Homo sapiens: one gene and its partner. The protein of the gene in region 2 purifies or fractionates together with the protein of the main gene of each other region. This does not show direct contact. Each region holds a gene or a part of one and is shown on either strand. Other genes may lie near its edges.

Evidence for each region. The genes of interacting proteins can lie anywhere in the genome.
Region 1: the proteins of WDR12 (region 2) and TOM1 fractionate together in Homo sapiens (co-fractionation; one large-scale study listed by BioGRID). This does not show direct contact.

The regions. Positions count from the first base shown.
Region 1 is NC_000022.11:35,316,692-35,320,394, reverse strand, and holds part of TOM1 (target of Myb1 membrane trafficking protein), read right to left. Parts: intron 2,519-3,703; coding exon 2,434-2,518; intron 1-2,433.
Region 2 is NC_000002.12:202,894,512-202,898,214, forward strand, and holds part of WDR12 (ribosome biogenesis protein WDR12), read right to left. Parts: intron 2,905-3,703; coding exon 2,789-2,904; intron 1,709-2,788; coding exon 1,554-1,708; intron 116-1,553; coding exon 70-115; intron 1-69.

The DNA.
Region 1 (3,703 bases), on a different chromosome or scaffold from region 2:
TGTGATTCCCACCATCCTCCACCCTCGGCCCTATACAGGTATACTCAGTGCTGCCCTGACTGCTCTTGTCTAAAAGCCTTTGTGCAGGGCCCCCACTTGCACCCTGAAGGCTCCTGACCTCCACATCCATGAGGTGAAGCCTCAGCTAAAATCCACCCCTTCCACAACACTTTCCCAGGTCCTCCAGTCTCCCTGGCCTGTTCTGCCATGCCACATTGAACTGGGGGCCCACCCTGGGTAGAGAAGAAGCTTGCTAGAGGGCAGGGATGGTGTTCTCTTTGGACAGCTTCCCTTCCTAGAGCCCATCACACTACTGAAGCACAAGTAACATTTCTCAGCCTGGCCAGTGGCCACTGGGACCCATCCGGCTGTCTGCCTGGCTGTCAGTGCTGACCCCATCCAGGACTAAGGCAGGAGAGCCTGGAACCCTGGCACTGGTTCTCAGCAGGAGTGAAGGCAGAGGCAAGGCTTCCTAGGGACAGAGCCTGCCTGGGGGCTAGAGCTATGGAGGCGGTCAGGCCTGCGGTGGAAGGGACACGGTGGGGAAAGGGATGGTGGCCCACCAAGGGGGGTCCTGGCCCAGAAGCCTGAGAGCAGTTTCCAACCCTTGCCTCCCTGGGCAGCCCCTCGCCCGTCCCTGGCTCCTGGTCTTGGCCTGGCCACTGACCCACGGGCTACTTCAGCGCTTTATAGTGACTTCTTTCCACCTCTTCTAGGGTGGCCTAGACACAAGGGAATCAGAATCATTCCCTGGCATGTTCCGCCATGCGCCACTGACCTGGGGGCCCACCCTGGGAGAGAAGAAGCCTCCTAGAGCGCAGGGACAGCGTCCTTGTTGGACGCCTTCTCTCCCTAGAGGGAAGCACTGGGAATCGGAAGTTCTGGCCTTGCCACTGCTGTGGGCCCATGATGTCCGGTACTCTGCTGGGAGCACAAAGTGTATGACAAGGAGGCCACAACCCAGTGGGGGAGACACTTTAGCAACGAGGCTAAGTTTAGGTGCCATGCTTGGTGAGGTCAAGGGTCATGCCTGCCTTTGATCACTGCTGGGTCCCTAGTGCCTCCTGTGTTGCCTGGAACACACAAAGTGCTCAAATAAATAGCAATGCACCTGACCGACGCCGAGCCTGTTCCTCCCATGTTTATAAGGGACATGGGGGCTTGCTGTCCCCAAGGATACTGCAGTGACTTGCAGCTGCGACGTCCATGAAGCTCCCAGGCCTGTCTAGAGGCTTGGTGAGGTTTTCTGCCTCCTGCTTTCTTTCTTCTGACCTCTGCCCACCACTCCTTCCCTCACCCTCACTCTCATGAGTCCTTGGCAAGATCAGGGAGCAGGGCTGAGGAAGACACCGGCAGGTTCCTGGCAGCCACTGCCCTCTCCTGACTGGGCCTTGACTGTGTGACTCAGATGCCCACAGCCTCCCTCCAGCTCAGAGCTGGGCACTCCCTGCCCTCCACCTGCATCCAGCCTGCGCCTCTCCACGCAAAGCCCTCCCGGGCTGAGAGGAACCCTGCACTGGCCGCGGGAGAGCTGGATGATCCCAGTGAGAACTGGAGAGGGAAAGGAGGGTCCACACTGATTTCTCAGGATGGAGGCCTCGTCTGGCAGCACTTCCTGCTGCCCACGGCTCCCACACCTCTGCCCAGCCTTCGCTGGGTTTTCCTGAGAGGACAGGGACCCTCGCATCCCCTTTCTGCTCCCTCCAGGGACTCGGGCTTATTGCTGGAAGGATCTAACAGAGCACCTTCGAGGACAAAGACCTAGAGAGGTAAAGTGACTTCCGAAGGTCACACGGCTGGTCAGTGACAACGAGTCAGACATTGGAGGCCAAGACCCCAATCCTTCCCCCACACCATGTGCCTTGGCAGGGCTCCTTGGCACTGAGCAAGACGATACCGTGACCCCAACACCAGAAACGCCCGGCAAACGCCAGTGCTGTTCAGGCTCACGGTTCAGCTTCACTTTCCCTGCCATCCTTGTGATCTCCCTTACCCTCCAGGCTGGTTTCAAATCTTAAGGAAATGGAAGTCTGTTTTTGCTCGCAGAAAAGCCGGAGTCTCTCTAGTACACACTCCCGCCTGCAGAATGCAGATGGCGCTTGGGGTCAACTTCTGATTAAGAGTCTCCAGCTTGCCTCATCCTAGGCAGATGCTGCACACAAGGCTGGGCTTCCAGATCCGTGTGGAATCTGGGCTGCCACTAAGAGAGGCGGGGTGGGGTGGCAGCCCCCAGGGGCCAGCTGTGAATTCCTACCTTGGATGGGGCTCAGGTACTAGGGGCTCAGATGGCCTCTGCAGCCAAGCGGGTTGGGTCAGACTTGGTGGCTATGGCAGCAATGGGGCTGGGGCAGGGGCTCCCTGGAAGGGTGCAGGAGTGTGCTGCGTGGTGGGATGGCCGTCTCTGCCCCCAACCTCTCCTTGGGGGGCCCTTACCCTTCCTCCGTCTCGTTGATGATGTCGCAGATCTCCATGTTGAGGGCCCAGTCCTCGCTCTGCAGGGAGCCATCTGTGGCTTTCTCTGAGAAGAAACCAGGAGTCATAAAGTCATGAGGGGGTCCTGAATGGGTAAACTCAAACCGTGGGTGGGAGAGGAGGGGGGTGCAGGGCCGGATGAGATGGGGAGGAGGAAGATGACAGACACTTCCTGGGCACAGGGCCTGGCCCTGTGTGAGACTGCTCTATACACATTGTCCCATCGTCACTAGATTCTTGTAGCCACTGAGGCCGGAGTACCTCTGCTCTTCAATGGATGAGGAAACCATGACTCTGAGTGCACCAAAGGGATGCACCAGAGGGGAATCTAGGTGGGCCTCCGTGTGCTTATTCCTGACATGACAATATGGAGACAGTGCTTTGCTTCATTTCTGTAGATAAGATGTTCTCCCTTGACTTTAGAATTATCTTTTGAGCTGGGCGCGGTGGCTCACGCCTGTAATCCCAGCACTTTGGGAGGCTGAGGTGGGTGGATCACCTGAGGTCAGGAGTTGAGACCAGCCTGACCAACATGGTGAAGCCCCGTCTTTACTAACTACAAAAAAGTAGCTGGGCATGGTGGCACATGCCTGTAATCCTGGCTACTTGGGAGGCTGAGGCAGGAGAATCGTTTGATCCCAGGAGGCGGAGGTTGCAAAGAGATTGAGCCATCACACTCCAGCCTGGACAACGAGAGCGAAACTCCATCTCCAAAACAAACAAACAAACAAGCAAAAAAGAATTATCTTTTGAGTTGGTAACCATTCACAGGATACAAAATGTAAAAGTTCTCAAGTGGTATACAATGGAGCTAGGTAAATCTATCTCTGTCCCCTGCCCCAGCCCCCTCTTCCTAGAGGCATCCCCTGTAACCAGGTTCCTCTAGAATCTCACAGAGAGCTTCTTTACCTAGGAAGCAAACGCTCCATTACTAACAGGTCACCTGGCCCTCCTGTACCCTTCTGAGGCACCCACAGAAGGGACCGATGCCGAGCCACCCAGCAGAACTACCCCAAAGAGAGGTGATGATTCATGCAAGGTACCAGCACAGTAAGGTATCAGCACGGCAAGGTATCAGCACGGTACGGGCCCAAAATAAACACTCAGCAAGTGGTGGTGGTTCTTTTTAAAAAAAGTTGAGGCGAAAGTCACATAAAATAAAACTAACCATTTTACCATGTATAATTCAGTGGCATTTGGTACACCTGTAATACTGAATACAACCACCACC
Region 2 (3,703 bases):
ATATAGCCTCCGAATTTAAATTTTTGAAACAACATTATTAAGTCAAGGTAAAATAAATATTTAATTTACCTGTAGACCAGATCTTTAGCATCTTATCCCAGGAGCCACTGCAAAACTAAACAGATGTATATGAAGGGAAAAGACATATGTAATATGATTCATATTATTTGCCTACAACAGTAGGTCTCTTCCTCATTCAGGACCTTTTCAAAGAACTTGTGTTCCACAGAACTGAAATTAGCCTTTTTCCAGGGGCAGATAGGACAGAACATAAAATCTGGGAAATCTTGAAGGCCAAGCTTATTGCCATGTCTTTTGAAGAAAGCCAATCTGAAGTGAGAGAGAATAAAGTCAACTTGAGGGACAAGACAGCGAGAGGGTGTGCGGACCACATTCAAGCCTCTATTCCACTGGTTCCTGAGGCCCAAATGCACCATTACCCTTCTTGTGATGTGGTTGTTCAATCTTTCCTTGGATCTCACAATCCATTTACTTTTAAGGTTAAATAAGTTCAAGTTGAGTTTCTATCTCTCCTTAACCAAAAAGAAGAGGTACAGTTAATCCACTAAAGTTTGGACTAAACAACATATAAAACTTTTCGGCTCAATATGAAAAATCATAAATCTTCACCTTTGAATACAAGCATCCTGTTACCCTAACTGTCAAAGAAACACTCTTAAGTCCAGAATACTTCAATGTGGCTTAGGAAACTTTCAAATTCTAAGTGGATTTATAACCCTTCATATTAATAAATCAATATGGTATTGCCCTCAGGTTTGTTACCTTTTAACTAACTTTTACCATTTTGTCATGATAAAGAGTAGATTGATACTATAGTAAAACTCTATTAGCACTAACTTTAGTGTATGCTAATGCTCAGACTATCAACTAGGCGTTTTCAGTTGATGACAGCACTTAAGAGTAGCTGATATAGACTGGAAATATGTCAATTACTATGAGGTAAGAAGGTTATATAAATGAATGGCTTGTTTACTTCATTTCTTTCTTTTTTTTTTTTTTTTTTTTTGAGACTGAGTTTCACTCTTGTTGGGCCCAGGCTGGAGTGCAACGGTGCAATCTCGGTCACTGCAACCTCTGTCTCCCGGGTTCAAGTGATTCTCCTACCTCAGCCTCCCGAGTAGCTGGGATTACAGGCATGCGCCACCATGCCCGGCTTATTTTTTTTTTTTTTTTTTTTAGTAGAGACAGGGTTTCTCCATGTGGGTCAGGCTGGTCTTGAACTCCTGACCTCAGGTGATCTGCCCGCCTCGGCCTCCCAAAGTGCTGGGATTACAGGCGTGAGCCACCGCGCCCGGCCCATACCTCATTTCTTAAAATTTCTGGAGTTTATATAAGGTTCTAAACCAGGGATTCAAACTGAGCAAGTGACTATCTCCTATTGTATGAGTATTTACTCTTGCTTTGAAATCCTATCTTTTGTCACCGATTGTTAGGAAACTAGGCCAACACAATGAATATATGCAGAAGAAAATGTTTAGCAACAAGCTCAAATTCAAATTTAACAGAGTACTAATAATATTCTAGCTACTTACTTTAGTTCCTGAGCCATCAACAGCTATAGAATCTACACTTCCAGCATGACCTCTACAGCAGTGTAGGGCTTTCACTTTGTTTCTCTCTACATTCCACTCCCATAAGAGAATAGTCTGATCCATAGAAGCACTCAATAATAAGCAGGACAAACTATCTGGAGAAAGGAGAACACAAGAATAAGAAACAAATCAGTATACCATTTAGAATACATCATGTTCTGAAACCAAAGAACTAAATTTTTTTGTTGTTATTGAAAAAGATGTTAAAAAGATAACTCATATGGCCAGGTTTTAAAAGGCTGATGTGGTATAAAGAAAAGATTCTTCAAAAATAGATGACGATGACTGGGTGTGGTGGCTCACGCCTGTAAATACTGACATTTTGGGAGGCCAACACAGGCAGATCACTTGAGGTCAGGAGTTTGAGACCAGCCTGGCCAACATGGCAAAACCCTGCCTCTACTAAAAATATAAAAATTAGCCGGGTGTGGTGGCAGGCGCCTGTAATTGCAGCCACTCAGGAGGCTGAGGCAGGAGAATCACTTGAACTCAGGAGGTGGAAGTTGCAGTGAGTTGAGATGGAGCCACTACACTCTAGCCTGGGCGACAGAGTGAGACTCTGCCTCAAAAAACAAACAAACAGGCTGGGTGCAGTGGCTCACGCCTGTAATCCCAGCACTTTGGGAGGCCAAGGCGGGTGGATCATGATGTCAGGAGTTCGAGATCAGCCTGGCCAAGATGGTGAAACCCCGTCTCTACTAAAAATACAAAAATTAGCCAGGCGTGATGGTAGGTGCCTGTAGTCCCAGCTACTCGAGAGGCTGAGGCAGGAGAATCGCTTGAACCTGGGAAGTGGATGTTGCAGTGAGCCGAGATCATGCCACTGCACGCTAGCCTGGGTGACACAGCGAGACTATCTCAAAAACAAAACAAAACAAAACAAAACAAAACAAACAAACAAAAACAGAAGAAAATAAAAGATGAATGTAATACATTCAATATTAACTTGAAAATGTATATTATCTGATGTAATTTTAATAAAGATACACTTCTAACAATTTATGAATTTTTTATATAATCTTTTTCTTCTTGAACACTGTATTTTTTGAAAGACCTCATAATAACTGAGGTATGAGATACTTCCCACCCACTCCCCATTCTTCCCCAGCACCAAAAATGGCTTATTTCCAAATCCCTATCTAGGATTCCTCTAAGTGTAGGCAAACTGTCCTAACCTTTTTTCACCCAGGCCACATCTTTTACAACATCCGTATGTCCCACAATTGTCATTATTGACTTTCCTTCCAAGGACCAGATCCGAGAAGTCTTATCATAAGAACCAGTCAAGATCCTATGAGAAAAAAAAATCTTATGAAACACAAAAAGCAGTTTTTCCAAACCCTGAAATGTTTCTTTGGCAATGACAAAGTAACTTTGAGGATTATACTTTTAAACTCTTTTTTGATATGAAGATTGAGATTTCAAGCCATACTAGATCAGATCACTTGACGTTTCTCAACCTCCTAAAAATAATACCTGGCATGGCTGGGCGTGGTGGCTCACGCCTGTAATCCCAGCACTTTGGGAGGCTGAGGCAGGCGGATCACGAGGTCAGGAGATCGAGACCATTCTGGCTAACACAGTGAAACCCTGTCTCTACTAAAAATACAAAAAATTAGCCAGGCATGGTGGCGGGTGCCTGTAGTCTCAGCTACTCAGGAGGCTGGGGCAGGAGAATGGCGTGAACCCAGGAGGCAGAGCTTGCAGTGAGCCGAGATTGCGCCACTGCACACCAGCCTGGGTGACAGAGCGAGACTCCGTTTCAAAAAAAAAAAAAAAAAAAAATATATATATATATATAAAAAATATATATCATATATATACATAGTATAAAATTACTTTCAGGCTAGGTGTATAAGCTGTATATGAAACATAAATGAATTTCATGTTTAGACTTGGATCACATCCCTAAAATATTTCACTATGTATATGTTAATATTCCAAAACCACCCCCACCCAAAAAAAATCCTACATCCAAAATACTTCTGGTACCAAACATTTCCAGATAAGGAATACCCAACCTGTAGTACTCTTTTTTCTTTTTGAGATGGAGTCTTGCTCTGTTGCCCAGGCTGGAAGGCAGTGGCGCG